Linked DNA regions of Homo sapiens. The protein of the gene in region 1 interacts with the protein of each later gene in a pairwise test. Each region holds a gene or a part of one and is shown in the gene's direction. Other genes may lie near its edges.

Region 1 (11,961 bases):
CCAGCGAAAATGTCAGTGTGCAGGATGGCTGCACGTGGTGGGCGGGGAGGGCGTTGATGAGGAGCCGATTTCATAAGTGGCCACTTTGTTCATGAATTTTGTGTTGTGATGACATTTGCTTCCTCACGCTGAGGCCGGGCCACCACTGCCACCCTACCCTGTAGCTGATAAAGCTGCAGGTACAGTAGTAATTTATTTGTGTTTCTTTTATAACAATAAGGAAATGTTTGCTTCAATTTTTTAAAAAGACGTGCAAACGAAAGAGAATTAAAATGTATGTGATACTTCACCACTTTCTAAACTTGAAGAAAAGAGATGCATAGACTCTAAGATGTTTGTATTGTTTTGCCTTCCAGGAGGTTTCAGTCAGGAAGAACTTCTGAAAATCTGGAAGGGGCTCTTCTACTGCATGTGGGTGCAGGATGAACCCCTTCTACAGGTAACATGCGTTCCCTTTGTCATGCTCCCGGGTTCTTGCTGTGGATGGATAAGAGACTTGATCACTCATGCTGTGCCAGTCCCCCGATACACTGACGCACACTGACAGTCATGCTTCAAGGAGTCATTTTCGTACCTCTTGTCCATACAGAAAGGGATGCAGGGTCAACACAGTTAGGTGAATTGTCTTTTCAAATAAAAGGAAAGATGTGCATTCGTTGTCAATTTACTATTTCTCTGTAAAATTTCATAGGTTCCATGCTAGGTTTTACATTACTTAAAGTTTCTCTCTTCTGGTAAGTTTATTTTTTGTGGTCAAGGATGGCATGACAGGAGCACTAACTAGTCAAGACCCTGTGAAACCCAGGAGAGGGCAGCCGCGTCACTGGGCTTCGGGTTCCATGGAGAGCAGCAGTAGCGCTCAGCGAAAGCCTCCCTGTTAAAGCCGAGTGCGCCTGCGCAGTCACCCAAACGCGCAGCAGGCTCGGTCTCTCTGTGCGGGGCCTGCTGAGCCCGCTAAGCCCACCACCAAAGCCAACACTAAAGATGTGACTTTCACTTTTTAAAAGCTTTGTTCTGACCCATGAAAGTAGATCCGATCTGCCTCTGTAGAGGGAGAGCAGGCTTGTCCAACCCACAGCCACATGTGGCCCAGGATGGCTTTGAATGCAGCCCAACACAAATTCGGAAACTTTCTTAGGACCTTATGAGATTTTTTTTTTTAAGCTCTTCACTATTACTAGTGTTAGTGTATACTGTGTGTGGCCCAAGACAGTTCTTCCAGTGTGACCCAGGGAAGGCAAAAGACTGGACACCCCTGAGGTAGAGGAACCAGCCTTGAGAAGTGCTTGCAAGTCTCTGATGCAGATGACAGGTCCTCAGGGCAAGATTTTACTTTTCTGGGTTTTAATGTGCAGCCTTGCCACTTCTCCCGTGCTGCGTAATAACTTGTTTTAATTTATTTTTATTTTACTGAACATATTTTGAGTAGGAGCAGGGCAAAATATTTTTATATTACATTCAAAAGTAACAACCAACAGCTTTAGTGGAGGAAGAAAACCAATGGACAGAAATCTCATTTTCCCACGAAGGAAAACAGACCGGGTGTGGTGTGAGTCAGACTGATGAGGAGTGTGCTTTTCTCACGGAACCTCAGAAGAGAGGGCGTCTCCCCAGAGTGAGCCTGCTGCACCTCAGCAGGGCATGCTCTCTCAGGGACCCCTTCACCCAGGACAGAGCCCAGAAGGCTGAGTTTACCTTCACATTCCACCTTGTCTCTGAGCAAGCTGTAGGGAGGACTTTCCCATGGCGTGCAGTGAGCATCCCCAGCATCTCACCTCTGTGAGGTCTGCCCTGCTGTCTTTGTGTTTCACATCATTTCTGGGATTATGATGAAGTTTTCTTTTTTTTTTTTTTTTTTTACAGAGTTTCACTCTGTTGCCCAGGCTGAAGTGCAGGGGTGCCATCATGGCTCACTACAGCCCCAACCTCCCTATTGCTCAGCTGATCCTCCTGCCTCAGCCACCCGAGTAGCTGGGACTACAGGTGCACGCCTCCATGCCTGGCTAATTTTTGTATTTTTTGTAGGGACTGGGTCTCATTGTGTTGCCTAGGCTGGCGTTGAACTCCTGGACTCGAGCGATCCACCCGCCTCGGCCTCCCAAAGTGCTCGGGCTCCCATTACAGGCATGAGCTGCCCAGCCCAGCTTAGATGGGGGTTTTTTGGTTGTTGTTGTTGTTTTGAGATGGAGTCTAGCTCTGTCACCCAGGCTGGAGTGCAATGGCATGATCTTGGCTCACTGCACCCTCTACCTCCGAGTTCAAGCAATTCTGTCTCAGCCTCTCGAGTAGCTGGAACTACAGGCACACGCCACCACGCCTGACTAATTTTTGAATTTTTAGTAGAGATGTGGGGAGTGCCATCTTGGTCAGGCTGGTCTTGAACTCCTGACCTCAGGTGATCCACCTGCCTCGGCCTCCCAAAGTGCTAGGATTACAGGCATGAGCCACTGCACGTGGCCAGATATAGTTATAAAGCCAGGAACTGATAACTAATTTATTTCATCTCTAGTTCATCTGAACTGATAATTAGAGATGCTTTTTTAAACATGTAGCTTAACACAGTTCTTGCAGACATACCAAGTTAGCATAATAGTCCGTCAATATTGGAACTTACACATTTGATAAAATTCAGATATTCGGATACATACTTCTTAGTGGAAGTGACAAGAGGGGCAGACCTTCCCACGAGCGGAAGTGGGAGAAGGAAGCAGGCCGCGGCACAGGCATCTCATGTTGCCCCACGATAACCCCCATGTTTCTCCCCAACCCCGCCTCTGCAGGAAGAGCTCGCCAACACCATTGCACAGCTAGTCCATGCTGTTAACAACTCAGCGGCTCGTAAGTCCTGTTGTTTCTTCTCCTTCCTTCCAAGTTTTCCGACTTGCTAGTTTAATGGGAACCTTGTGCCGGTATTGTGTAGATGTCAGGGGACAAGCCATTCCTGTTTTTAAAAGCTGTGATAAACTTAGTCATTGACTTGGTGAGAGGGCACAGTGTCTTGGGGAGAATCAATTTGACATCTCAAAGATTTCAGAAAATGCTTTTAGAAATAACAATCCTCCAGAATCTTCAAATTCTGAGTTACTTTAACACTTGGAGCCTGGAGAGCCAGATGCAGGGTCCACGGTGACCTCTGGATGCCAGGTTCGTCTTCCCCAAGAGCAGAGCCGTCACTGGTAATAAATACATAGAAGACACCACCGGTCACAGACTATGAAGTAACTCCTCTCAACCATAGAGAAAAAAAATTAGTTAGGGTGCTTCTGTGTCAGGCGTTGATTGCTTATAAAGGAAGAAAAAGGTAGCCGACTTCGTTTGTTCTGCTTAATGCTCTTCAGAAAAGCATCCTAATGATTTCAACCACCCCCAGTGGTGCTCTGAATATTAGCTGACTCATATTGAACAAAATTCTACATATGATGTATAATAGATTTACAAAGATGAAAAAAGAATTGTGCAAAAAGAAATAAAGCCAAAAAATCAACAAAAATTGTTTTTGAATAAAAAAGTGCTAGTTCTGTGGGTCAGAAGAGAAAAATTCAGTGTTTTGTACCGTAGCTCACCCAGATGCCACCTATAATCAGACAAAAATATGAGTTTCTATATGGATTATATAAGTGTCAGAATTAATGGTTTTGAACTGATTGTGAGGTACCAGTGCAGTAGGAAGAGTTACTAGAAGTGGAACAAGGAGTCTTGATTTTAAAAGAAACGTGGCTTTGCAGTGGATAAAGGAAAAATGCTCCAGAGAGCGCTCAAATCTGACATTGCAATGTTGCCAGCCCTTCCGGTTATTCTGTTTTTATTTAAATTCAAAAGACCAAGGCCAGGCACGGTGGCTCACGCCTGTAATCCCAGCACTTTGGGAGGCCGAGGTGGGTGGAACACCTGAGGTCAGGAGTTTGAGACCAGCCTGGCCAACATGGTTAAACCCCGTCTTTACTAAAAATACAAATATTAGCCGGGTGTGGTGGTGCACACCTGTAATCCCAGCTACTCGGGAGGCTGAGGCAGGAGAATCACTTGAACCCAGGAGGCAGAGGTTGCAATGAGCTGAGATCATGCCATTGCACTCCAGCCTGGGCCACAGAGTGGGACCCCGTCTCCAAAAAAAAAAAAAAAAAAAAGTAAAAGATCTGCACAGTCTAAGTGATGTTTAATAAATAAGTGTAAAAGAAATGATTGAGTATATTTAATTATCAACAGATTTTCTAGCTGCCCAAGAATTACTGAGAAAAGTGAATAATAAATAATGCTAGTTTGTTCCTCTTCATTATTTTCTTGCTATATGGTAGTATGTTGATGTGGAAGCCAAGTATTTAGAGCCTTTTGTTCACTGCAGAACACCTGTTCATTCAGACCTTTTGGCAAACCATGAATCGAGAATGGAAAGGAATAGACAGGCTACGCCTGGACAAATACTATATGGTAAGATCTGCCGCAGTTACTTCAAAAACTCCTGGGAAGAAAAGAATGTCCTTTATCTTAAAAACAATGGGAAGGTTTATTTGTGAAGCAAAACAAGCCACAGGCTTAGTGTGAAGGAAGAATTTGAATGTGTCCTGGAAAGCTTCTCTGTTTTGGCTTTTGCAGTTCTTAAGGATGAGTTTGGGGAGCATTAGTGAATACGTTGGGTATTTTTTGAGACAGAGTCTCTCTTGCTCTGCTCCCCAGGTTGGAGTGCAGTGGTGCGATCTCAGCTCACTGCGACCTCCGCCTCCTGGGTTCAAGTGATTCTCATGCCTCGGCCTCCTGAGTAGCTGGGATTACAGACGCGCACCACCATGCTTGGCTAATTTTTGTATTTTTAGTAGAGATAAGGGTTTGCCATGTTGGCCAGGGTGGTCTTGAACTCCTGGCCTCAAATGATCTGCCCACCTCAGCCTCCCAAAATGCTGGGGTTACAGGCATGAGCCACTGTTCTTGGCTATGAATATGTTTTTTGATCTAGAAGGTAAATATGACTGTTGTGAATATTTTTTTACTTTTGGGATCCAGGCCATAACAATTTCATTGGTCCCTTCATTCTGCTGAGCTGATTAATATTTCTTACCTTTCCTTTTTTTTTTTTTTTTTTTTTTTTTTAAACAAAAATTGCCTTTCTTTAGCTGATTCGTCTGGTCCTGAGGCAGTCCTTTGAAGTCTTGAAGCGAAATGGCTGGGAAGAAAGGTCAGTAAACCATTTGAGTTAGCATGTGGTAGCCTTAAAACTTAAAAGGTAGTAGAGTGTCAAGTTTTCTGAACTTGTAGAGTACCAATGAGAAGCTCGATACATCGTTACCTATAGAGAATTGAAATCCAGTAGAAGGCATAAAACAGTTAAGTATATATGACAGTTAACATTTTATCCTGATTTAAGTGATTGCTTTTTTCCTTGTAAAATGATTTCAGCCTTGCATTGATTGTTAGGCTGTGTAGGTTCTAGACGGAGTATTTTTGTTTCTCTTTGGGAAGTGGGACGTGTTGGCATACTGTCATTCACAGAAGCATGCGTTTGGTTCTTTAGCCGAATCAAGGTTTTCTTGGATGTCCTGATGAAGGAGGTCCTGTGTCCTGAGAGTCAGTCTCCTAATGGAGTGAGATTCCACTTCATTGATATTTACCTGGATGAACTCTCCAAAGTCGGGGGGAAGGAGGTAAGCAGCTGCCGACAGGCTGCCCACGGGGTGAGGGGGCCGCCAGTGTTCGCAGTAGTCGCCAGTGAAGTGCTGTGGGGTGGCCCTTCGCATGACCAGCGACTGTAGCAGCGTGAATTGCTTCAGTCCTGTCTGGGAATGTGTCCTAAGCAGCTGGTGGGATGGGATTTGTGCACTGAGGATGTACATGACAGTCTTACCTGTAAAACGGAATTGAAAGCAACCTACAGACTCCACTAAAGAACTCACTAACACGGGGGAGTACTCAGGATCTAGGGAGCTTTATAAAGCGCTAGGAAAAGCTATGCAAATGGTAGACATTTTTAAGGTATATACTCATAAATAGACAAAAGGCTGGAAAGGAAACATACATTTTTTAGTATGCAAATGATTCTCTGAATGTGGGAATGTGCACAGATTTTACTTTTCTTTCACAGGTGTTTTGCAGGGAACATGTATTTTTTTGATTAAAAGAAAATATGTTATATTCAAAACAATAATTCTTTTGTCTCACACTTGGAGGCACTGTCCCTGTTACCCCTCTTGTAGAGGAAGTATATGTATGTCCTGTATCAGGTTTGTCCAGCCCGCAGCCTGAGAGCTGCATGGGGCCCAGGGCAGCTTTGAATGTGGCCCAACACAAATTTATAAACTTTCTTAAAATATGAGGGGTATTTTGCATTTTATTTTATTTTATTTTATTTTATTTTATTTTATTTTATTTTATTTTATTTTTAGCTCATCAGCTGTTGTTAGTGTTTGTGTATTTTAGGTGTGCCCCAAGACAGTTATTCTTCCATTATGGCTTGGGGAAGTCACAAGATTGGACACCCGTGTTGTATATGTTGGGCATATAGGATAGTGCAGGTCAGGCTGGGTGGCTTTCTCCAGCCACTGCACTAAGATACCAAGTAGCTGGAGGGCGGCCTCAGTCTTCAGCCTGGCTCCAGGCTTCTGTGGCATTCCACAGGGGCGCTTTGGGGCTGTGTGAGACAGGCATTGCTTGGTCTAACTCCACCTTTGTAAAAGATGGGAATGGTCCCTTTTTCAAGGACATGTCAAGAAGGGAAAGGCTCTTTCTCAATTTTTCCCTTTTTCTAAATTACAGCTTTTAGCAGATCAGAATCTCAAGTTTATCGATCCATTCTGCAAAATTGCTGCGAAGACGAAGGAGTAAGTGATTCCCCTGTTCGTTCCTCCTGCTCCGTGGCATTTGCTCATGGGAGTTACTTGCCGTCGTGCAGCCTGGCACAGGGTACCCAGGACACTGCTTCACAGCAGAGAGCGGCTGGAGAAGACAGCCGAAGCTTTGAGCAGTGATTTGGCTCTTCTAGCTTCAGTATTTGCCTCACTCATTCCAGGAATGCCCTCCCACACCCAAAGATCTGACCGCTGGGCGTCCCGTGCCTGTCGGGTGGCACTTAGGCAGTTCCTCTCAGATGCTTGCTGGCCCGTGGGGGCCACTCCAGACCACAGCAACGTGTGCAGGGCTTCCCTCTGTGCCCCTGAAGCCAGAAGGCCAGGCCGTTTGTTCTCATCACATGCTCTCCGCTGTGCTTCTACCCTCAGCCACACCCTGGTACAGACCATAGCTCGGGGTGTCTTCGAAGCTATCGTAGATCAGTCTCCTTTTGTGCCTGAAGAGACGATGGAGGAACAGAAGACAAAAGTGGGTGATGGTGACCTCTCTGCTGAGGAGATACCTGAAAATGAGGTATCCTTGAGAAGAGCTGTCAGTAAAAAGAAGACAGGTAGGAGGATGTTCTTGGTCAGTGTAGCTTTCTTTCTGCTAAAATCCTCCTCAGACAAACAGTTTTTAATACATTTGTTGGCATCTTACTGAATGCAACCTAGAGTTGATGGCTCTGCCTCAGCCCCTCCCAAGAAAGGCAGCAGAGGTGGGTTCATTGTGCCTGGGGGGTGCCTAGCGGGGCTCTGGGGAGACCTGAGATCTGTCCCATGTGGCATACACACATTTCTGTACCTCTCAGGATCTCAGGACTCTCCTCGAGGATTTTACCATTGTCACTGCTAGTGCTTTTTGTTTGCTTTGTTGTTTTTTGTTTGACACGCTAACACCTTAGCATGCATGGCCTCATTTCTACGGGTTACTCGAGGGACGTACGCTTGTTTCTGTGGCTGTCCTTTCTCAACTCATGGCTTCCTTCAGGGAATGTTTTTCTTTTTCTTGGGATGTTTAAATGCCTACTGTGTACTGACATAATTCTTACTACTGTTTTGTGTCTGGACTTAATGTAGAATGTGCATTTGAAGTTGCAGGCCCATCCAAACTCTCACCACAGTGCTTTATGGCATCTGAATGCACAAAATAAGGGAAATGGTTAGATCACAGCTTACCCATGCTTTTGAAGTGTTGTATACCCATTTAAAAGCAAAGCTCCTAAAAACTAAGGACCAAAGGAAATGTGACAGACATATATATATATTTTTTAAAGCAGGGTACAAACTCTACATAGAAGGAGTCTGATTTGTTGTTTGGGTTTTCTTTAATTATTATGGCTATATAATAGTTGTGCATCTGATTTGTTTTTAAACGTTTATTTGTGCTTTTATTTTAAGTGAGAACATAAAATGTTTGGTTTTCCATTCCTGAGTTACTTCACTTAGAATAATGGTCTCCAACTCTAGCCAGGTTGCTGTGGATACCATTATTTCATTCCTTTTTATGGCTGAGTAGTATTCACGGTGTATATTCCGCATTTTCTTTGTCCACTCATTGGTCAATGGGCATTCAGGCCGGTTCCATGTTTTTGCAGCTGTGGATTGTGCTGCTATAAACAAGCGTATGCAAGTGTCTTTTTCATATAGTGGCTTCTTTTCCTCTTGGTAGATACCCTGCAGTGGAACTGCTGGATCAAATGGTGGATCTACTTTTAGTTCTTTAAGGAATCTCCACACTGTTTTCCACAGTGGTTGTACTAGTTGACATTCCCACCAGCAGTGTAGAAGTCTTCCCTGTTCACCACATCTGTGCCAACATCTTTTTTTTTTGAGATGGAGTTTTGCTTCTTGTCACCCAGGCTGGAGTGCAGTGGTGCCATCTCAGTTCACTGCAGCCTCCACCTCCCAGGTTCAAGCAATTCTCTTGCCTCAGCCTCCTGAGTAACTGGGATTACAGACACCTGCCACCAGGCCCAGCTAATTTTTTGCATTTTAGTAGAGATGGGGTTTGATCATGTTGGCCAGGGTGGTCTCAACCTCCTGACCTCAGGTGATCACCCACCTCGGCCTCCCAAAGTGCAGGGATTACAGGCATGAGCCACCGCGCCCGGCCACCAACATCTATTATTCTTTGATTTTTTAAATTATGGCCATTCTTGCTGGAGTGAGGTGGTATCTGATTATGGTTTTCATTTGCATTTCCGTGTGTTTGTTGACCATTTGTATATCTTCTTTTGAGAACTGTCTGTTCATTTCCTTAGCCCACTTTTTGATGGGATTGTTTTTTTCTTGCTGATTTGTTTGAGTTCCTTGTAGATTCTGGATATTAGTCCTTTGTTGGCTGCATAATTGGCAAATCTTTTCTCCCATTTTGTTTGTTTATTCTGCTGATTATTTCTTTTGCTGTGCAGAAGCTTTTTAGTTTAATTAAGTCACAGCTGTTTCTGTTTTCATTGCATTCACTTTTAGGTTCTTGGTCATGAACTCTTTACCTAAGCCGACATCTGGAAGAGTTTTTCTAATGCTATCTTCTACAATTTGTATGGTTTCAGGTCTTATATTTAAGTCTTTAATCCATCTTGAGTTGGTTTTTCTATAAGGTGAGAGATGAGGATCCAGTTTCATTCTTCTTGACAATTACCCCAGCACCATTTTTGAATAGGGTGTCCTTTCCCCACTTCGTTTTTGTTTGCTTGGTTGAGGATCAGTTGAGTGTAAGTATTTGGGTTTATTTCTGGGTTCTCCTGTTCCATTGGTCTACATGCCTATTTTTATACCAGTACCAGTACCATGCCATTATGGTGACTATGGCTTTATAGTATAGTTTGAAATCGAGTGTTCTGATGTCTCCGGGTTTTTGAGGGTTTTTTGTTTTTTTGTGTGTCTTTTTTTTTTTGGTGTTTTGGTGTTTTGGGTTTTTTTTGGCGGCGGGGAGGGGAGAGAGACAGAGTCTTGCTCTGTCGCCCAGGCTGGAGTGCAATAGTGCGATCTCAGCTCACTGCAACCTCTGCCTCCCATGTTCAAGCGATTCTCATGCCTCAACCTCCCTAGTAGCTGGAATTATAGGCGGGTGCCACCACGCCCAGCTAATATGTCTTTGTATTTTTAGTAGAGATGGGGTTTCACCATGTTGGCCAGGCTGATCTCGAACTCCTGACCTCAAGTGATCCACCAGCTTCAGCCTCCCAAAGTGCCGGGATTACAGGCATGAGCCACTACTCCCAGCCTCTAGATTTATTCTTTTTGCTTAGTCTTGCTTTGGCTATGCAGGCTCTTTTTTGATTCCATATGAATTTTAGGATTGTTTTTTCTAGTTCTGTGAAGAATGATGATGGTATTTTTATGGGCATTGTGTTGAATCTGTAGATTGCTTTTGCCAGTATGGTCGTTTTCACAATATTGATTCTACCCATCCGTGAGCATGGGATGTGCTTCTGTATTTCCATTTGTTTGTGTCATCAGTGACTTCTTTCAGCAGTGTTTTGTAGTTTTCCTTGTAGAGATCTTTCACATCCTTGGTTAGGTATATTCCTAAGGTTTTTGAGGTTTTGTTGTTTGTTTTGTTTTTTGTTGTCATTGTTGTTTTGGTAGGGGTTTTTTTGCAGCTGTTGTAGAAGGGAGTAAGTTCTTGATATGATTCTCAGCTTGGTCGTTGTTGGTGTATAGCCATCATACTGATTCATGTAAATTGGTTTTGTATCCTGAAACTTTGCTGAATTCATTTACCATTCTAGGAGCTTTTTGGGTGAGTGTTTAGGGTTTTCTAGGTATATGATTGTATCATCGGCAAACACGGACTTTGACTTCCTCTTTACCAGTTTGGATGCCGTTTATTTCTTTTCTGTGATTGCTCTGGCTAGGATTGTTCGTGCTTTTAAAAAATCTGGAAGGATAAACCAAAATGTTTTATTTATTTATTTAGAGACAGGGTCGGCCGGGCGCGGTGGCCCAGGCCCGTAATCCCAGCACTTTGGGAGGCGGAGACAGGTGGATTACGAGGTCAGGAGTTCGAGACCAGCCTGACCAACATGCTCAAACCCTGTCTCTACTAAAAATACAAAAAAAAAAATTAGCCAGGCATGGTGGCACATGCCTGTAACCCCAGCTACTCAGGAGGCTGAGGCAGGAGAATCACTTGAACCTGGGAGGCGGAGGTTGCAGTGAGCAGAGATCGAGCCACTGCACTCCAGCCTGGGCGACAGAGGGAGACGCCATCTCAAAAAAAAAAAAAGAGAGACAGTGTCTTGCTCTGTTGCCCAGGCTGCAGTGCAGTGGAGCAGTCATGGTTTATTGCGGCCTCAACCTCTTGGGCTCAAGTGATCCTCGCACTTCAGCCTCCCAAGTAGCTGGGACCACAAGCACACACCTCTTTATTTTTTGTAGAGACAGGGGTCTCACTATATTGCCCAGGCTGGTCTTAAACTGTTAGGCTTAAGCATTCCACCCACCTCAGCCTCCCAAAGTGCTGGGATTAAAGGCATGAGCCACCACACCTAGCCCAAAATGTTAGTATAGTTAGCTGTAGGTGGCAGAATTATGGGTGATTTCTGTTTCCTTTGTACTTCTCTATTTCCTACAGTGATTATATATTATATTTAATCAGAAAAAATCAAGCCGGTTGCAGTGGCTCATGCCTATAATCCCAGCACTCTGGGAAGCCCAGGCAGTCGGATAACTTGAGGTCAGGAGTTCGAGACCAGCCTGGCCAACATGGTGAAACCAAGTCTCTACCAAAAAGTACAAAAATTAGCCAGGTATGGTGGCGGTCGCCTATAGTCCCAGCTACTTGGGAGGCTGAGGTGGGAGAGAATCACTTGAACCCAGGAGGTGGAGGCTGAAGTGAGCCAAGATCGTGCCACTGCACTCCAGCCTGGGCAACCAAGCAAAACACTGTCTCAAAAAATAAATAAATAAACAGATAGATAGATAGATAGATAGATAGATAGATAGATAGATAGAATCAAGAACCTTTTTTTTCTTTTTAATTTTTAGACCTGGTGGACGGGAAGTAATTTTTTTTTTTTTTTGAGATGGAGTTTCGCTCTTGTCGCCCAGGCTGGAGTGCAATGGCGCAATCTCAGCTCACTGCAACCTCTGCCTCCCGGGTTCAAGCAATTCTCCTGCCTCAGCCTCCCAAGTAGCT
Region 2 (11,572 bases), on another chromosome or scaffold:
GGTTGATTACATGTCTTTGCTATTGTGAATAGTGCTGTGATTAACATACAAGTGCTTGTCTTTTTTTGTACATACCCAAAGTAGTGGGATTGCTGGGTCGAATGGTGGTTGTTTTAAGTTCTTTGAGAAATCTACACACTGCTTTCCACGGTGGCTGAACTAATTTACACTCCCACCAGCAATGTTTGAACATTCCTTTTTCTCCACAACCTTGCTGACATCTATTATCTTTTAACTTTTTATTAATGGCCATTCTGACTGGTGTGAGACAGTATCTTGTGGTTTGATTTACATTAATAGTGATGATGAGCATTTTTTCATATATTTGTTGGCTGCACGTTTGTTTTTTGAGAAGTGTCTGTTCATGTCCTTTGCCCATTTTTAATGGGGTTGTTTTTTGATTGTTGAATTAAATGCCTTATAGAGTCTGGATATTAGACCTTTGTTGGATGCATAGTTTGTATTTTCTCTCATTCTATAGGTTGTCTGTTTATTCTGTTGATAGTTTATTTTGCTGTGCAGAAGCTCTTTAGTTTATTTTGGTCCCACTTGTCAATCATTGTTTTGGTTGCAGTTGCTTTTGGGGACTTGGTCATAAATTATTTCCCAAGGACAGTGTCCAGAATGGTATTTCCTAGGTTTTCTTCTAGGGTTTTTATAGTGTGAGGTCTTATATTTAAATCTTTAATCCATCTTGAGTTAATTTTTGTGTATGGTGAAAGGGGTCCAGTTTCAGTCTTCTGCATATGGCTAGCCAGTTATCTTAGCACCATTTATCAAATAGGCAGTCTCTTCTCCATTGCTTGTTATTGTTGACTTTGTTCAAGATCAGATGGTTGCAGGAGTACAGCTTTATTTCTGGCTCCTCCATCCTGTTCCATTGGTTTATATGTCTGTTTTGGTACCAGTACCATGCTGTTTTGGTTACTGTAAGCCTTATAATGTACCTTGAAGTTTGGTAGTGTGACGCTTCTGGCTTTGTTCTTTTTGCTTAGGATGCTTTGGCTATTCGGGCTCTTTTTCAATTTCATATGAATTTTAGAAAAGTTCTTTTCTAATGCTGTGAAAAATGACATTGGTAGTTTGATAAGAAGAGCATTGAATCTGTAAACTACTTTGGGCAGTATGGAGATTTTAACAATATTGATTCTTCTATCCATGAGCATGGAATGTTTTTCCATTTGTTTGCATCACCTCTGATTTCTTTCAGCAGTGCTTTGTAGTTGTAGAGATCTTTCACCTCCCTGGTTAGCTGTATTCCTTGATATTCTTTTTGTGGCTATTGTAAATGCAGTTCTTGATTTGGCTCTCAGCTTGGATGTTTTTGATGTATAGAAATGCTACTGGTTTTTATACATTGATTTTGTATCCTGAAACTGATTAACAAAGTTGTTCATCAGTTCCAGGCACGTTTTGGCGGAGTCTATGGGGTTTTCTGTGTATAGAATCATTATCGTCAGTAAAGATTGTTTATCTTCCTCTCTTCTTATTTGGATGCCTTTTATTTCTTTATCTTGCCTGATTACTCTGGCAGGGACTTTCAGTACTCTGTTGAATAGGGGTGGTGAGAATGGTCATCCTAGTCTCTTGTTCCAGTTCTCAAGGGGAATGCTTCCAGCATTTCCCTTTTCAGTACGATGTTGGCTGTGGGTTTGTCAGATGGCTCTTACTATTTTGAGGTATGTTCCTAATTTTTCAGTGCCTAATTTGTTGAGGGTTTTTAACATGAAAGGGTGTTGAATTGTATTGAAAGCCTTTCTGCATCTATTGAGATGATCATATGGTGTTTGTTTTTAATTTTATGAGGTGAATCACATTTATTGATTTGCATATGTTGAAACCTTGCACCCCAGGAATAAACCCTTCTTGATTGTGGTGAGTTAACTTTTTGATGTGTTGCTGGATTCGGTTTTAGTATTTTGTTGACGATTTTGCATCTGTGTTCATCAGGGATATTGGCCTGAGGTTTTCTTTTTTCCTTGTGCCTCTGCTAGGTTTTGGTATTACAATGATGCTCACTTCGTAGACTGAGTTAGGGGGGAGGTCCTCTTCCTGGATTGTTTGGAATAGTTTCAGTAGGATTGGTACTAGCTCTTTGTACATCTGATATAATTCAGCTGTGAATCTTTCTGGGCCAGGGCTTTTTTTGGTTTATAGGTTTTTTTATTACTGATTCAGTTTTGGAACTTGTTATTGTTCTGTTCAGGATTTTAATTTCCTCCTGGTTCAGTCTTCGGAGTTTGTGTGTGTTTCTATGAATTTATTCATTTCTTAGGAGGTCATGTGTGTTTCTATGAATTCATTTCTTGGGAGCGCATGTGTGTTTTTGTGAATGTATTCATTTATTCTAGGTTTCCTAGTTTGTGTGCACAGGTGTTTATAATCTCTAGGTATTTTGTATGTCTGTGGGGTTGGTTGTAATGTCACCTTTCTCATTTCAGATTGTGCTTATTTGGATCTTTTCTTAATCTAGCTAGCAGTCTATCTTGTTTATTCTTTTGAAGAACCAACTTTTGGTTTCAACATTTACATTTTTAAAAGAGGCCAGTTTTAGCTTTAGTGTGCTCCTACAAATCATTCTTGTTCACTGAGTAAAACAGCTTCAGTACTTTGCTTTTGCAAAGGCTATTCTATGTCTTTGATGTACACACACTGTATTTCTCTTAAAATGCATTGGGGCTTTCCCATTCCTCTTTCTCTTTATCATAATATACTGTTTCCATCAATTAGTACAATTGAATGGTAAATGGTTGATTGCTCATTTACAAATTAAATATAGTAACCATACCTTATCCTTCCAGCAGTTGTCATAGTGGTGTTGGATTAATATATTCTCTTCACTAAGGCACTATTATGTTCTAAATAGTTTTTAAAAAATACTTTGTACATATTTCTATACTGTTTTAGTTTTGGAAAATCATGACTTTTTTATGTATAATGTAGGTTAAAGCTCTATTTACATCCACCAGAATGAGTGTAGTAAAAAAGCCAGACTGTATCAAGTTTTGGCAAGGATTTGGAGGCATTAGAATCTTCATACATTAATGGTGGGAATAGAGTTCTCATATGATGCAGCAGTTTTACCTCTAGGTATATACCCAAGATATATGAAAACATGTTCACACAAAAACTGTTACATAAATGTGCATTATTCCTTATAGCCGAAAAAGTCACACAATTCAGATGTCCATCAGCTACTGAATAGATAAACTGTGGTACATCCATACAATGGACTGTACAATGTACAACTCAGCAATAAAAAGGAATGAAGGACTGATACTTCAAAACTGGTTTTGAAAACCTGAGTGAAAGAAGCCAGTCACAAAAGACCACATATTATATGATGCCAGTTATATGAAATGTTCAGAATAGGCAATTCTATAGAGACACATAGTAGATTAGTAGTTGGTTAGAGTTAGAGGATGTGGAGAGCAGGAATGGGGAGTGACTGCTGATGGGAACAAGCTTTCTTTTTGGGGTGACAAATGTTCTAAAATTAGATTTATATCAATAAAGCTGTTTTTTAAGTAAAAAGATCTATTTATACATAAATAAATAAGGTCTGAAGGGTTTGTGACTTGTAGGTTAGTTACCCTCCTAAGTTACTGTATCAGAATTATGATGACAACATAGATCTTCTGACTCTTAAACCAGTGTTCTTTTCCTCACAACAGAGATACACTAAGTTCAAAAAGTTTTTTACTTAAATCTAAGGATTGGATAGTTGATAGAGTTAGTGTACTTTTGTTATTAAAATATGAGTGGAATGACAAAGTTCAGACATTTGCACACTTTAAGAAATGTTTATGGAACTTTGCTATTCTACATTTTTATTGCATTTTTGCAGTTTATGCCATTTATTGAAAATCACAATTGTAACAATTTTCTTAACTTCTGTACATGAAAAAATAACATTATTTGTTAATAATTTACTTTAAGATATTGAAACCATCTGAAAAGAAAGCTAAATACCAGTATGGTGGACTGAATTCTGGACGTCCTGTCACTCCACCTCGAACAGCTAATCCGCCGAAGAAAAGGTGAAGAAAGGAATTCTGTAAAGAAACCATCAGATTTGTTAAGGACATACTTCATAATATATAAGTGTGCACTGTAAAACCATCCAGCCATTTGACACCCTTTATGATGTCACACCTTTAACTTAAGGAGACGGGTAAAGGATCTTAAATTTTTTTCTAATAGAAAGATGTGCTACACTGTATTGTAATAAGTATACTCTGTTATAGTCAACAAAGTTAAATCCAAATTCAAAATTATCCATTAAAGTTACATCTTCATGTATCACAATTTTTAAAGTTGAAAAGCATCCCAGTTAAACTAGATGTGATAGTTAAACCAGATGAAAGCATGATGATCCATCTGTGTAATGTGGTTTTAGTGTTGCTTGGTTGTTTAATTATTTTGAGCTTGTTTTGTTTTTGTTTGTTTTCACTAGAATAATGGCAAATACTTCTAATTTTTTTCCCTAAACATTTTTAAAAGTGAAATATGGGAAGAGCTTTACAGACATTCACCAACTATTATTTTCCCTTGTTTATCTACTTAGATATCTGTTTAATCTTACTAAGAAAACTTTCGCCTCATTACATTAAAAAGGAATTTTAGAGATTGATTGTTTTAAAAAAAAATACGCACATTGTCCAATCCAGTGATTTTAATCATACAGTTTGACTGGGCAAACTTTACAGCTGATAGTGAATATTTTGCTTTATACAGGAATTGACACTGATTTGGATTTGTGCACTCTAATTTTTAACTTATTGATGCTCTATTGTGCAGTAGCATTTCATTTAAGATAAGGCTCATATAGTATTACCCAACTAGTTGGTAATGTGATTATGTGGTACCTTGGCTTTAGGTTTTCATTCGCACGGAACACCTTTTGGCATGCTTAACTTCCTGGTAACACCTTCACCTGCATTGGTTTTCTTTTTCTTTTTTCTTTCTTTTTTTTTTTTTTTTTTTTTTTGAGTTGTTGTTTGTTTTTAGATCCACAGTACATGAGAATCCTTTTTTGACAAGCCTTGGAAAGCTGACACTGTCTCTTTTTCCTCCCTCTATACGAAGGATGTATTTAAATGAATGCTGGTCAGTGGGACATTTTGTCAACTATGGGTATTGGGTGCTTAACTGTCTAATATTGCCATGTGAATGTTGTATACGATTGTAAGGCTTATGTCACTAAAGATTTTTATTCTGATTTTTTCATAATCAAAGGTCATATGATACTGTATAGACAAGCTTTGTAGTGAAGTATAGTAGCAATAATTTCTGTACCTGATCAAGTTTATTGCAGCCTTTCTTTTCCTATTTCTTTTTTTTAAGGGTTAGTATTAACAAATGGCAATGAGTAGAAAAGTTAACATGAAGATTTTAGAAGGAGAGAACTTACAGGACACAGATTTGTGATTCTTTGACTGTGACACTATTGGATGTGATTCTAAAAGCTTTTATTGAGCATTGTCAAATTTGTAAGCTTCATAGGGATGGACATCATATCTATAATGCCCTTCTATATGTGCTACCATAGATGTGACATTTTTGACCTTAATATCGTCTTTGAAAATGTTAAATTGAGAAACCTGTTAACTTACATTTTATGAATTGGCACATTGTATTACTTACTGCAAGAGATATTTCATTTTCAGCACAGTGCAAAAGTTCTTTAAAATGCATATGTCTTTTTTTCTAATTCCGTTTTGTTTTAAAGCACATTTTAAATGTAGTTTTCTCATTTAGTAAAAGTTGTCTAATTGATATGAAGCCTGACTGATTTTTTTTTTCCTTACAGTGAGACATTTAAGCACACATTTTATTCACATAGATACTATGTCCTTGACATATTGAAATGATTCTTTTCTGAAAGTATTCATGATCTGCATATGATGTATTAGGTTAGGTCACAAAGGTTTTATCTGAGGTGATTTAAATAACTTCCTGATTGGAGTGTGTAAGCTGAGCGATTTCTAATAAAATTTTAGTTGTACACTTTTAGTAGTCATAGTGAAGCAGGTCTAGAAAATAAGCCTTTGGCAGGGAAAAAGGGCAATGTTGATTAATCTCAGTATTAAACCACATTAATCTGTATCCCATTGTCTGGCTTTTGTAAATTCATCCAGGTCAAGACTAAGTATGTTGGTTAATAGGAATCCTTTTTTTTTTTTTTAAAGACTAAATGTGAAAAAATAATCACTACTTAAGCTAATTAATATTGGTCATTAAATTTAAAGGATGGAAATTTATCATGTTTAAAAATTATTCAAGCACTCTTAAAACCACTTAAACAGCCTCCAGTCATAAAAATGTGTTCTTTACAAATATTTGCTTGGCAACACGACTTGAAATAAATAAAACTTTGTTTCTTAGGAGAAAATGATTCTGTAATTCCAGTGTCACTAATTTATATTGTTCTTTCCTCTGATTTTTTTCAGGTTAGTGATTTTTTTGTATACAATTTAATCCAAATGTTATGACATTCAGAAATCATGAAACACAGTAGATATCTGTTATAATGTGGTGTATCACATGGATTATAAAGCAAAGTTATGGTCGATTTCTATTCTTGAAAGAATCAACTACAGTGAATCCTTTGCATTTGAAGCCTTAACATGCATTGCTTTAATTTTGCCCAGGGACAAATTTTAATAATCAGCAAGACTGGTTTGTGCAAAGCGTTGAGTCATCAGGTATTTAGAGCCTAGCCAGCTACCCAGTATCCATGCTGCCATATCCCTTCATTGTAAAAAGTACCTAAACATTCGTGAAATGATTTTTTTTAGCTGAAAAATGCTGGCAAGAAGAATTTTAAAGCTTAAAATAGGTGGTAAATTTGAAGTATGAGTGTGTTCACGAGAAACATAGGCTTTTCAAAAAAATTTTTATTCAAGGCAAAGCAAGGAACATCTTGAGATATGTCTCAAGAATATAAAGATGTATTATTTTAAGCCAAGGAGCTGAAATATATCTCAGTTTATAAATTCAGGTATATTCTTTTTGTCTCCATGGCAACCATAACTTTTGAACCAAAAAAAATTGTTTTTACATCTTTATGCTGAAAATGTGTTTAGATTAGGAATATGGTCGGGCTGAATTTGCTGTTGCTCCCTAACCAAATCCACCTCTTGTTTTCCTTGTGAGTCCATGGCTAAATCAAAGCTGCCCCTGAGAAGAGACTTAATCCAAGCCTGATTGTACTAGTGGCATCACTTAGAAGTAGGCTTTCCCTCTTCCTAGTAGATCTCAATGTTTTATAATTCCTTAAAACAGCTGAAAATTGGGACAACATACTTTACGCAATGAACAGTAGTTAAATAGGAAATAAACTAGTTCCATATAAGTATACACCTAGAGTTTTAATTACCTTTATAATGTTTCTTAAAAGTGAAACTTAGATACAATTGTGATTGGATACTTAGATACTAAGTGAAACTTAGTGTAACAATTTTGATCTGTTAAATTGGATTTTACATGTACATTTGAATGCCAGAATTTCTAAATAAATCCCCTGGTTAGGAAATTTTAAAAGTCAAAGCTTGTTTTCTTCAACCACTACCTTCTACATTGGTTGACTTAGACCGTAAGCTTTTTAAGTTTCTCATTGTAATTTACCTTCTCATGCAGATTGCTGATGTTTTATTAAACCTTATTTTTACAAAAATGACCATAAATCTTTGCTTCTTTCCTCTTAGGGATCTTTGCTAGTTTATGTGATTATGAAATCTTACTTACAACACCACATTGTTTGGGGTATACAGGGTGGAAGATAGCAAGTGAACAGGGGGTGCGGGTGGGGAGGGTTTGTGTGTGTGTGTGTGTGTGTGTGTGTGTGTAAGAGAGAACAAACTAACGGCCTGAGGCTAATAGGTTCAGCATTCCTTTCAGATACTATATGCAAAAAGGTGGGAACCTAAGGTCTGTTCCTGGAGGCTTTTCAGTGAAGCCTGGCATAGGATCGGCAAGTTAAAATATGTATTAATTTTTACAGCTGCCTAATCAGAATGATTCAGCAGATTTACAGGCCAAATTTTTCCTACAAAACCAGTGACATCACAGCTAAACATCTAGAACTTTCATAGATTATTGTACAAATTTATTAAAAGGCACAGTAATTTATGGTCTATCATGTAAACACTGATTCTCGACAAAACCACAAAGGCAAGTAATACAGTGCAACAGAAAAAAGTAGTCCAGAGGAGTTTCTTTTTTTCTTTTTTTCTTTTTTTTTTTTTTGAGAGAGAGTCTTGCTCTTGTCTCCCAGGCTGGAGTGCAATGGCATGATCTTGGCTCACTGCAACCTCCACCTCCCAGGTTCAAGCGATTCTCCAGCCTCAGCCTCCTGAGTAGTTGGGATTACAGGAGCCTGCCACCACACCCAGCTAATTTTTGTATTTTTAGTAGAGACGGGGTTTCACCATGTTGGCCAGGCTGGTCTCTAATTCCTGACCTCATGATCTGCCTGCCTCGGCCTCCCAAAGTGCTGGGATTACAGGCGTGAGCCACCTCTCCCGGCCAAGAGTGTTTTCTTAATGTAACAAGTTTAATCTGAAGTAAGTCTTAAATCTCCTAGTATATTTTTTGGAAAAAAAAAAAGCCAAAGAAACAAAACCAGAGTGTTGAAATGCTACCTCCAATATATGTATAACTCAAACTGATAATTGGCATGGTTTCTGACAGTGCTGCTGTTTACCAGCAGGTTATTGACAGACTGACACCTGTTCCATTCTTGAATAAATATAAACTTTGTCTCTCTAGCTCTTAGTTTAATAAAAATCCCTGAGAAGGAGGATGTGCAGGGTGGAGTTGCTGGAGAAAACTTAATGTCTTGTAGAACTCATAACTACTCAATTTACCAACTTAAAAATTAAGCTACATATTAGGAAATGTAGTTTATCACATGTAATAAGGAATTGAGATTATCAGGAAATCTTGGGTGAGGCTCAGGATCCAACATATAACTGGGCCCAGCACATAAAACTGTTACCTGACTTCAATAAGAAATTTTAGCCGGGCGCAGCGGCTCATGCCTGTAATCCCAGCACTTTGGGAGGCTGAGGCAGGCAGATCATGATGTCAGGAGATCGAGACCATCCTGGCGAACATGGTGAAACCCTGTCTCTACTAAAAACATAAAAAATTAGCTGGGCGTGGTGGCGGGCGCCTGTAGTCCCAGCTACTTGGGAGGCTGAGGCAGGAGAATGGCGTGAATCCGGGAGGTGGAGCTTGCAGTGAGCTGAGATCACGCCACTGCACTCCAGCCTGGGCGACAGAGCGAGACTCCATCTCAAAAAAAAAAAAAAAAAAATTTTAGAAACACAGATCTCTGCCTCCCAGTGTAATTGCCTCAGATTTTGTAGCACATCTCTTAACTGCAGCTTGATAATTCCACTGAAATTAATTCTATTGGTCATATTAAAGAACAGGTTAAAAAGTCTTTATTGCTGTACTGTAAAGCCTGTTTTGAGTGGAAGACCCTAATCTTCTTTTAGTGAATTCCCCAAACTCTGGGTATGCTCACTGACAACACAAGTTGTAATCCCTTTTTTTTTTTTTTTTTTGAGACAGGGTCTCACTCTCTCGCCCAGGCTGGAGTGCAGTAGCCTGATCACAGCTCACTGAAGCCTCAGCCTCCCAGGCTCAAGTGATCCTGCCGCCTTGGCCTCCCAAAGTGCTGGGAGAATTATAGGCATGAGCCATCATGCCCAGCCCATTTTATTTTTAATATATCATCAATTATTTCTTATACAGATCCATTAGGATGTTGAATGCTCCTTTAAAACTTTGTTGTATTTGTCGGCCAGGCGCGGTGGCTCATGCCTGTAATCCCAGCACTTTGGGAGGCCGAGGCGGGCCGATCACGAGGTTAAGAGATCGAAACCATCCTGGCCAACATGGTGAAACCCCGTCTCTACTAAAAAAAAAATACAAAAATTAGCTAGATGTGGTGCGCACCTGTAGTCCCAGCTCCTCGGGAGGCTGGGGCAGGAGAATCACTTGAACCTGGGAGGTGGAGATTGCAGTGATCCAAGATGGCACCATTGCACTCCAGCCTGGGCAACAAGGGAAACTCCGTCTCAAAAAAAAAAAAAAAACTTTGTTACATTTGTCTTTAAAAGTCATAAGGCCTAGATCAGTCTTGTATGTGACTAGAATGTAGCTCTATGGGCAGGGTTTTTTGTTTTTTTTTTTTTGAGACAGGGTCTTGCTATGGTGCCCAGGCTGGAGCACAGTGGCACAATCTCAGCTCACTGCAACCTCCTGGGCTCAAGCCATCCTTCCACCTTAGCCTGCGTAGTAGGTGGGACTACAGGCATGTGCCACCATACCTGCTAATTTTTGTAGAGTGGGGGGTTTTACCATGTTCCCTAGGATGGTCTCCAACTCCTGAGCTCAAGTGATCCGCCCACCTCAGCCTCGCAAAGTGTTGGGATTACAGGCATGAGCCATTGCGCCCATGCAGGTATTTTTTTTCTCTTTTGTTCACTGATTCGTATCTCCTTATCGTAGAGTGGCGCCTGCCACATAGGAGGCCTGCAGATACTTGCTTAATGAATGGCAAGTGGGTGTCAAAAATCTCTACTTGTATTACTGTTTTGACACCTTGACCTGAAGAAGTTAACCACAAATAATAAAATTCCAGTTTTTCTTTATCCTCATGTAACTGCTTTTGTCTCTTATGACAAGAATGCTGAAGTTTCAAGGAGAAAATTGATTTGAGTCTGTACTGCCAAAATAAATGGTTTGTCAAAACTCTGGCCCCTACTTTGTAAACTATTGGTAAGTTTAAGAAGTCAGCCAGGCACGGTGGCTCACGCCTGTAATCCCAGCAGTTTGGGAGGCCAAGGCTGGCAGGTCACTTGAGATCAGGAGTTCGAGACCAGCCTGGCCAACATGGGAAAACCCTGTCTCTACTAAAAGTACAAAAATTAGCCAGGCCTGGTGGCACACACCTGTAATCCCAGCTACTCGGGAGGCTGAGTTTCTTGAAGGAGCATTTTGCAGCTAGCACCTGACAGGCATAGTGGAGAAGTTGCCTGTTACTGAGAACAAACATCGCAAGATCCTCAGGATTACTTTCTTTCCTCCCCTTTCTATAGTCTCTATTCTGTTTTCTTGATCTTAATGTCACCTTTGTAGTGAGCCACCTCACATATTTTAGGAAAGTTGTATAATTTGTGTAATATTTTGTCTTTCAGAATTCATCCAGTAAGTATGAGCACTTAAAACTAGGAATCGAACTTGGAGAGGCTGTTGCCTCATCTAGCACAAGTATGTCATAGGCAGTATGGAGAAAGATCAACTATCTTTTCAGTAAGGAACAAAAAAGTCTGATACAGTGGAGAAAACTATTCTAGACAGAAATTTAATACAGTTATGTTGTTAGAATGATTGTTCTATTTCTTTTGTTGTTGCTTTTGTTTTGTTTTCTGAGACGGGGTCTTGCTCTGTCATCCAGGCTGGAGTGCAGTGGCGCCATCTTGGCTCACTGCAGCCTCCACCTCCTGGGTCCAAGCAGGTCTCCCACCTCAGCCTCTCGAGTAGCTGGGATAACAGG
Region 3 (9,741 bases), on another chromosome or scaffold:
TGTTTTTTTCTACATCGTAGCCAGCAGCCGCAAGCGCTTTCTTAAGCGCGGCCAGAGAAACGCCGCTGCGCTCCTTAGAAGCTGCCACTGCCTTGGTGATAAGCTCAGATACTGGGGGTCCGGATGCTTTGCGTTTCCCAGCAGTTGCGCCTGCCTTCTTCGCCTTTTTCTTCACAGGTGTTTTTTCTGCGGGTGCAGGAATGGTAGGAGCAAGTGGAGCAGTCTCCGACATGTTTTTGTCTTCCCAGAAAAGACAATAAGTAATCTCAAACTGTCAGAACAGCATGTCCTCTACGAGGGAGGCTGAGGGTTTATATAGAGAGACGCTGAGTGATGATTGGTTCCTTGCTCCATGCGCGGCGCTGCTGGAAAAGGACTCCTCGTATCTACCGCGCTGCTGTGTTTGTTGCCCCTTAAAAAAGAGTAAAAATATAAGAAATCTGGGCATGAAATAATTAGAGACTTGGGGGAAACTGATCCGAGAGAGTTCGGGCTTCATTCCTGCCTTTGTTTCTATGCATAGTTTTAAAACCGGCATCTTGAAACTTTTCTTATTCCCCCAACTCTCTTTCAAACTTCGGTCAAATCGAGACAACTTTCATGTTTTCCTTAAAAATACTATTTCTCCCTCTTTCATTTGCAAATCTCTCTTCCAGGGCATTGTTCTGTGAATTCTTACCGTCTCAACTTTATATAGATAAACTCATTTTTATCCAAATGTGCAGGGAAATTGGGTTTTTTCGCAGGAACAATAGCACAGGCTCTCTGGCGAGCTGTTTGCATCAACCTCTAGGAATTGGCACTGAGGTAGAAAGTTCTATGTACAAGAGGGGTGATTAGTTTAGAAAAGATAGTTTAAAAAAAAAAATAGTATTTGAGTTACCAGTGTGTAAGCTGGATTTGATCTCCATATTTCAGTGGTTTAAACATTTCCAGAAAGATAAGGGTGAGGCTACATTATTCCTCTTACAGAAAAAAAAGTCCTAAGTAGAGTTACCAACCTTCTCTTAAAAGTTAGGATCATGGATTTTTCCGATCTAGAATGGGCATTAAAGATCAACTACCACATCCCCAAAAAAGAAAACTGAACCAACAAATAATAGAATGGCAGGCCAACATCATTTTGGCAACTGTGAGCATTGAGAGCTTGTGTACATGTTTGTGTCCCATCACTTTATAAATAATTTAATGAAATACACTATTTTTTTGCTAATATTCATCATAGAATTTTGTACATTTTTTATATTTTAAAATCATATTTATAATACAAATTTCCCTTCCTCTTTCTCTGTACAACCTGTTTGAATAACTGGTAAAAGTCACTTTAAAAAAATAAAATACAAATTTTCAACATTGCAAGTGTGGGCATCAAGGGTTAGAAAGAAAAATATCTGATTTAAATCACTGTAAATTTTCATCATTCTACTTGGCTTTTTACACACAAAATATGAACTAAGCTGTCACACCCTAAATTAATTGGTTGAATATGTCCACCTAAGGAGCTGAACAAACATTTCAAAGCAAACATGAGTAACTTCAGTATTCTTTATCTGTTAGTTTGCAATACAGCTGATGGAATTAGGTTATTATTAAATAATTAAGCACAAAATTGATATTCTCCATCAAGTAATCAGATGCTGAAATGAACTCCTATGTTGAAGAAACAAGAGAAGTAGTTTGATGTTATGTTTCTTCTAACAAAAATACTCATTTCAAAAAATCAAGTTATTCTGGCCTACACTCAATAGTGATTAGAGGATTTTTTCATATAAATCCTAGATAAAATAATCAACTTTAAAGATGTCATCTCTCCTCATTCAACTAATTTCATAAAAATTACTTAGCTTGTCTTGGCCAGGCGCAGTGGCTCACGCCTGTAATCCCAGCACTTTGTGAGGCCATGCTGGGCAGACCACCTGAGTCAGGAGTTCAAGACCAGCCTGACCAACATGGTGAAACCCTGTCTATACTAAAAATACAAAAATTAGGCGGGCATGGTGGCACACGCCTGTAATCCCAGCTACTTGGGAGGCTGAGGTAGGAGAATCGCTTGAACCCGGAAGGCGGAGGTTGCAGTGAGCCAAGATAGTGCCATTGCACTCCAGCCTGGGCAACAAGAGTGAAATTCCATCTCAAAAAAAAAAATTACTAAGCTTGTCTTAAGTAATTATTTACTCTCTTGCATGTATTAGAAACAAGTCTCTGGGACTTAAGACCGTGTTATACACCACTGAAATACAAATGTGGTTTATAAAAAAGCTAAACTTATAGAATTGGATTAGTAGGACCCCACAATTCCAGTAGGGAAGCATTTTATAGGTTTCTGGAGGCAGGGGCGGTGCATCATTATGGATATCATTTTCAACAGTGATAGTCACAAGCATACTCTAAGTATTTTTTTTTGGGACCATAGCTTTATATTGCCTAGACGTAAAGGTACAATTAAAATTCAGATTGTTTACTGTTTATTATTTTGATCATTATTGTAGTCTTAATAGTTGTTGAATAATTGTTGGAATTGTTCACCGTGTTAGATATAGTCAATTAACAGATGCCACCATTTCATTCTTGTGCAACACTGACTGGTTCCCATAGCTACTTAGGATCTCAGTAAGTAAAAAGGCATTGGGCTAACTAATCTCTGCTCTTTCTGGAGGGCAATAACTGAGACTCAGTTTCACCAACAAAGTTCGCCAGATGTTCAAAGAGGAAAGGGGCTAGGCTACATAAGTTGGGACCTGGTACTTATCTTCTCTGTAATTGTAGCAAGGACAAGGTTCCTGAAAGCTGGATCACCCCATGGACTGTAAACTTGAAGTCCTGCAAAGTTTCACCTATTACTTTGGTAGCCCTCAAAAAGAGTTCTGTGTTGCTTTGGAATCCTAAATCTGAATATAATCTAAAACAGTAGATTTCCCATTACACTGAGGTTGGAACCATTTATTTTATAGATGCAAAAAGTAGCTAGGAAAAACTAGTTAGATAAGTGATAGCTATCTAACTTAAGGCCCAGTGTTCTCTTCATTTTGTGTTAACTCCCCCATCCCCACCACCACCATAGTAAATGACTATGAGAGTTGTAGGTAGTATTCAATAGATCAATCCAGTGACACTGTGCTTAAGCATCACACAATTCAGATTTTAAAGATTTCCAAAAAAAAAAAAAGAAACTATATAGAATAAATATTAAAAGGGGTGAAAACATATATAGACTATTATAGAAAATAAAGCTTTGTGTTAGAATCAAACGTGTTCAAAAAGTCCATGAGAAATCACATCGATTGTAACCGTCTATGAGGTAGTCTTACCTGAGGACACTGGCTCCTTGAAATTCCTCTTCAAGTACAACAGTATTGTGTTAATTTTATTTCCTAAGAAGGCCACTACTATACTCAAACTTACAGTTTTCTCTTTACATGTCTCAGGCATCCACCAAACTCCCTCCTCCCTTCTAGACTGGATTAGAAGCTCTTCAGAAGAAACCCCCTTATCACAGATACAGCCCAATAAAACTTTCTGCGATGATAAAAATATTCTGTATTAACACTGTCCAATAGGTAGCCACTAACCATATGTGGCTACTGAGTACCGTAATGTGGCTAGAGTAAGTGTGCAAATTAATTTTTAATTTAAATTAATTTAAATAAAAATGAGCACATGTTGCTAGTGGCTAATATAGGACAGCAGAGCTTTAAAACAATTATTCTCAAACTTGGAAGAGCATACCTACCACCCACTTAGAGATCTCATTAAAAATGTAATATCAATTCCATTGATTTGGGGTTGGGCCCGAAATTCTGTATGTCTAACAAGCTTCAGAGTGATGCCAGTATAGCTGGGATATGGCTGCTCCGCCCTTAAATACCTGACAGTAAGTAGAAGTATGCTGGTCTGATATCTGCCCCCTAACCCTGAGTGTACTTTTCCCTTTACTAAACTTTTGAGTTCTTTAAGAGAATAAATGTGATTATCTTTGTAAACCTGGTATTTGTACACTATTCTTGGCATGTAGTGGACATTAAATTGTTGAATGAATGAATGATGCTTGTTTGGTGCCTACCTCAAAAAGGAGAGCACTTGAGATCCTTGTGTCTATTCCTACAGGTAACTGAACCTAAGCCAAAATTTAAGTAGACTCTTAACTCCACAAAATGAATAATCTTCTCACTGCTTTTAGGCACCAGCAGAGACGGGATTTTTAAGTTACCCTTGCAGTATATAGGAGGCAATGAATGTGAAGCAGTAGACTGTAAGAGTTAATGTTGAATTTTTCTACTACACATACCCTATGATCTGTGTGTAGAACACTTCTTCCGGAATCTTTTATTAGGACAGTATTTCACAGAATTTATTAGTATTATTTTTGTTAATTTACAAACCTTTATTCACCATGATTTACCATGTATGCTTTAGTGGCATGAAAGCAGTGGTAGGTAGCAAGGTAGTGAGACTCCAGAATCGAGCCAACAATACAATGCCATTTATTAGAGGATAATGTCTTCAAGCCTGGGATTCCTTATCTTTACACCTCAGATATTGCATTATACATTGAAAAACTAAGAATGAAACTTCAATTAATATTGGTTTCCCTTACTAGAGGTCTTTCTTTATTAGGAATGCCAAAAACGATGTGAATGTATATGTCTCTGCCAAACGCTAAGTCTCATGATTGGCCAAATTTAAGAAGTATTGCTACATTTTAAGAATTAATAAAAATGGCCGGGCGTGGTGGCTCACGCCAGTAATCCCAGCACTTTGTGAGGCCAAGGTGGGTGGATCACCTGAAGTCAGGAGTTCGAGACCACCCTGGCCAACATGGCGAAACCCCGTCTTTACTAAGAAAATACAAAAATTACCCAGGTGTGGCGACGCGTGCCTGAAATCACAGCTACTCGTGAGGCTGAGGCATGAGAATCGCTTGAACCCAGAAGGCGGAGGTTGCAGTGAGCCGAGATAGCGCCACTGCACTCCAGCCTGGGCAACAGAGTGAGACCCCGTATCAAAAAAAAAAAATTAGTAAAAATACATTTTCAAAGAATCTTCACATTTAAAAATTAAAGCTAGGCGCCTGTAATCCCAGAACTTTGGGAGGCCGAGGCGGGTGGATCACCTGAGGTCAGGAGTTCGAGACCAGCCTAGTCAACATGGCGAAACCCCATCTCTACTAAAAATACAAAAATTAGCCGGGCGTGGTGACGCGCGCCTGTAGTTGCAGCTACTGCAGGGGCTGAGGCAGAAGAATCGCTCGAACCCGAGAGGCGGAGGTTGCAGTGAGCCGAGATCACGCCACTGCACTCCAGTCTGGGGCAGAGCAAAACTGTTTCAAAAGAAATAATAATTTTATTCTCTTGTCTATCCATTCGGTAGACAAGTGTAGCGTTACTGCCTCCTTTTTGCAAATAATAAGGATTTTAGGAGACAGACATTATCAGTTCGAGAGCCCACAGGCACTGGACTAGAAGACACAGAAACCTACACTCAAGACCCAAACAAGGAAACAGGAAGGAGTCAAATCAACTTGCATTTCCCCTACCCTCACCGCCCCCTTTCCTTCCCAAGGCAATAGTGTAGGGGACGCCCAGTAAGTTACGGAAAAGGCGGAGACAGAGGTTTCGTTCCCGCCCCTCCAATTCAGTCTCCAAAAAGGTCCGCATAATTGATATATAAGGGGCTTCAGTGTGTAGCAAAGTTGCAAAAGTTAAGAGTTGTTGTTTGTCTTCGATCATGTCTGGTAGAGGCAAAGGTGGTAAAGGTTTAGGAAAGGGAGGCGCCAAGCGCCATCGCAAAGTGCTGCGTGACAACATACAGGGCATCACGAAGCCCGCCATCCGTCGCTTGGCCCGACGCGGCGGCGTGAAACGCATTTCGGGCCTCATTTATGAGGAGACCCGCGGTGTTCTTAAGGTGTTCCTGGAGAATGTGATACGGGACGCCGTAACCTACACGGAGCACGCCAAGCGTAAGACAGTCACTGCAATGGATGTTGTCTACGCGCTCAAGCGCCAGGGACGCACTCTGTACGGCTTTGGTGGCTGAGCCTCACCCCGGCTTTTTATTTAACAGCTCACCCATAAAAGGCCCTTTTCAGGGCCACCTCCTTCGTCACACGAAGGGCTGTAACTGATGACGACTTGGGTTTCGTTTTGTAAATTTGGGATTCTAACTGAGTTAAACCGAGCCGTTTTTAGCGATCTTCCTAAGATGGCGGATGTGCTAAGGAGAAAGGGAAGGCGAAACATTAGAAACTTGTTCAGGTATTTCGATCGCAAACATTCACAGGAAAAGATGGTGGAAATGGTTTGGGAATACCAGCAGCCTTTTATGACGTATGTGATGTGTTTTATTCCCACGTTTCTGAAATTTACTCCTATGTTAGGTGGCTGGGACTTAACTACACTAGCATTACATGTTTAGTTTTTGAGATGGAGTTGCTCTTGTCCAGGCTGTAGTGCAATGACGCAATCTCGGCTCACCGCAACCACCCCCTCCCGGGTTTAAGCGGTTCTCCTGACTCAACCTCCCGAGTAACTGGGGTTACAGGCATGCGCCACCACGCTTGGCTAATTTTTTATTTTTAGTACAGAAGGGGCTTTTCTGTGTTGGTCTGGCTGGTCTCGAACTCCCGACCTCAGGTGATCCGCCCTTCTTGGCCTCCCAAAGTGCAGGGATTGCAGGCGTGAGCCACCGTGCCCGGCCTTAGTGTTATTTATTAGGCATAGAACGTGAGTAATCTTAGGGCGGCTGTGGACAGATCAATTACTGGTAAACTTAATCCACTACTTGTGTCCGGGCGCGGTGCCTCAGGCCTGAATCACAGCACCTTGGGAGACCACGGCGGGCGGATTACTAGAGCTCAGGAGTTCGAGACTAGCCTGGGCAACCAAAATGGTGAAACTCCGTCTCAACTAAAAAAGTTAAATAGGAAAGTTAGCCCGGCGTTGTGGCGGACGCCTGCTGTCGCAGCTAATCTGCAAGGGCTGAGGCAGGAGAATCGCTTGAGCACGGGAGGCGGAGATTTCAGTGAGCTGAGATGGTGCCACTCCACTCCTGCCTGGGCGACAGAGACCATGCCTCAAAAAAAAAAAAAAAAAAGTAAAGTTTGGCCGGGCTCGGTGGCTCATGTCTGCAATCCCATCTGTAATTCCAGCAGCTTGGGAGGCCGAGGTGGGTGGATCACTTGAGCTCAACGAGTTCGAGACCAGCCTGGCTAGCACTGCAAAACCTCGTCTCTACTAAAAATACAAAAATTAGACGTAGACGTGGTGACACGCGCCTGTAGTCCCAGCTACTCGGGAGGCTGAGGCAGGAGAATCACTTGAACCCGGGAGACTGAGGTTGCAGTGAGCCGAGGTCGCGCCACTGCACTCCAGGCCTGGGGCACAGAACAAGGCTCCGTCTCAAAAAGAAAAAAAAAAGCCCAAGTTTTTGTCTTACCCAGTGAATTCTTTGTTGGGGCACTTACTGTGATTTCAGGTCATTGATAATTTTACTGCTTTATTTCTCAAGTACTGGTAATTTATAACCCAAAGTGTTTCTCCTTGTGCTTTGTCAACCTACCCGGTTATCACCCGCGATCCTGACTCCTAACGTTTTCATTTTTTCACCATACCGAAGAAGTGGCTTCTCATCTGTTCTTTTTTTGTCAATGGTAATTCATTACATACACTGTTCCACAAATATTCTTCAACTTGGGGTTTCCTCTTCAAGAAGCCTTTACCTGATTCCTATGGGCAAAATCGGTGTCTGGGGTTTCCTTACAATTCACGAAGCACACTCTACACATGTCCCTAGCCCTACTTCAGAATTCCCTATACGACTTAGGAGCTACTGCACACTTAAATAGTTGGGAGTAATTCTTGCCCTCTTCCCAAGATATTTTCAGGTCTTGAACAATGTCTTTAATTTAGTATCCTCAGGATGTAGTATTTAGTTCATAAATGTTTGTGCAATGACTGAAGGAATCAATGAAATTAAGCTATCTGGGCCATCACCAATATACCGTTATAAAAATCATTCCCCTTTAATTAAGCAATATCTCTACTCCCACAGAACCATCTTCTCTATTCACCTTTACACAAATGTCAATATTCATGGCTGCCAACAATTTATATTACAGACTTTTTAAAATGCAGATTGAGATCCATTCACGGGTAATGAAAATAATTTAGTGGGTCCCAACCAGCATATAAAACGTAAATAGAATCCAATATAACAACTAGAAATTATCAAAGTATCCCATCTAGTAAGTAAAAATATTGTGTCATAAAATTTTAGTTTCAAATAGATGTACTTTTGGTTTTACTTTGGAACTTGAAGGAGAAAAGGTTCAAAAGATACTGGTCCATTTATTTAATGTATATATTTGTCAAATTCTCAGGTTAGGACATTGCCTCACTTCCCTGGGTTTCAGAACTTCAATACTCAGCCTCATTTGCAGCTGGAATGCAGATCTGTAACCTAGGCTTCACCAATGAGTCACAGGTTTAAAAGACTTATCTTCAAAAATGGGACCCAGGAGAGAAGAGACTGCCTAAAGCCTCTGTTTCTGCTGTGACAGATGTCAGATGGGCCAACTTTTGGTAGTAGCAGCAGCCATAGGTTACAGGTGAGTCAAGTTCTGATTCAGAAATAACAGGTGTGACACACCAGCACCTGACTAGTTCTGCAGCACAGCTTTGGAGTTTGTCCCTGGGAGTGTCATCAGGCGTGGTTCTACAGCCCTCCCAAGAATGCTAATATCTATTCAATATCCCTTTAAACATCACAGTTAATGTGCGATTACCAGTCAGCTGGCAACTAAGAATTTAGAGTTTCAAACAAAAAGGGTTTTAACTATTTTCTAATGGACTTTTGTGTATTTTAGGAATTCGGAGTCGTTTTACAACACTATTAAAAGGTTTTATGCCTTACTATACTTCTGGTAGCAATAATGCCTCCCCCCCAGATGCCCGCATCTTAATCCCAAAAGCTGCGAATATGTTTCCTTAAATGGTAAAAGTAACTTTCCAATGTTATTAAATTAAGGCTTTTGAGATTGGATGATTCTGGATTACCTGAGTGGTGCCATTGTAATCACAAGGATCCTTATAAGTAGAAGCGAGGAGAGTCAGAGTCAGAGAAGTGATAAGGGTAATGGAGTGTGATGCCTTTTGTAAACAGAGGAAGGGGCCACACTAGTTGCCCTTTGTTTCCTGAAACACATAAAGCTTTTCTCACCTTGAGATTTTCCACTTGCATGTCCTCTGGCCCAGAACATCCTTGGCGTGGCTCCCAATCTATGTGTGACTTCACACAAGAGCAGTGATATTTAAGCCAGTCATTTTGGCTACAATTCACTGTTTAAACACTATGTCATACTTTACAGGGCCATAGAAAATTATGGCAATTGCTGGAATGTTGTTTGACAGAATAGAGTGGAGAAACCCTGAAAGGTAAAAAGCTTGGCTTTGACAGAAAAAATAAATAACAATGAGAAAATGTGTATCCTAGAAAGGGTTTTTAAATTCTAGATTGACTCTTGCATTAAAATCTATTTTTAAAAAGTTTTGTTGTGTTCTGCTTCATGTGTTTGTTGTTGTTAAACAATGATTATTGTGTCGTTTCATTTACCCCTATGAAAGTGAAATAATACAAATCAAACATACACCATTGTAAGTTAAAAACTCATAGATTGAGAAAGTAAATATTTAATTCTGTGGAATTAAGTATATAAAGTTTTTCTTATATAAGAGTCTGTAGATC

The links.
Region 2: the proteins of RRP1B (region 1) and PPP1CB interact in binary tests that used the Homo sapiens proteins (3 or more experiments, as listed by UniProt).
Region 3: the proteins of RRP1B (region 1) and H4C6 interact in binary tests that used the Homo sapiens proteins (3 or more experiments, as listed by UniProt).

What each region holds. Positions count from the first base shown.
Region 1 is NC_000021.9:43,669,528-43,681,488, forward strand, and holds part of RRP1B (ribosomal RNA processing protein 1 homolog B), read left to right. Parts: intron 1-356; coding exon 357-439; intron 440-2,780; coding exon 2,781-2,838; intron 2,839-4,342; coding exon 4,343-4,428; intron 4,429-5,108; coding exon 5,109-5,170; intron 5,171-5,506; coding exon 5,507-5,636; intron 5,637-6,744; coding exon 6,745-6,809; intron 6,810-7,205; coding exon 7,206-7,387; intron 7,388-11,961. UniProt on the Homo sapiens protein: Positively regulates DNA damage-induced apoptosis by acting as a transcriptional coactivator of proapoptotic target genes of the transcriptional activator E2F1.
Region 2 is NC_000002.12:28,795,260-28,806,831, forward strand, and holds the end of PPP1CB (serine/threonine-protein phosphatase PP1-beta catalytic subunit), read left to right. Parts: intron 1-3,939; coding exon 3,940-4,044; 3' UTR 4,045-7,681; downstream 7,682-11,572. UniProt on the Homo sapiens protein: Protein phosphatase that associates with over 200 regulatory proteins to form highly specific holoenzymes which dephosphorylate hundreds of biological targets.
Region 3 is NC_000006.12:26,234,702-26,244,442, forward strand, and holds H4C6 (histone H4), read left to right. Parts: upstream 1-5,691; 5' UTR 5,692-5,724; coding exon 5,725-6,036; 3' UTR 6,037-6,092; downstream 6,093-9,741. Other genes in the region: H1-3 (histone H1.3), read right to left, coding at 1-232. UniProt on the Homo sapiens protein: Core component of nucleosome. Nucleosomes wrap and compact DNA into chromatin, limiting DNA accessibility to the cellular machineries which require DNA as a template.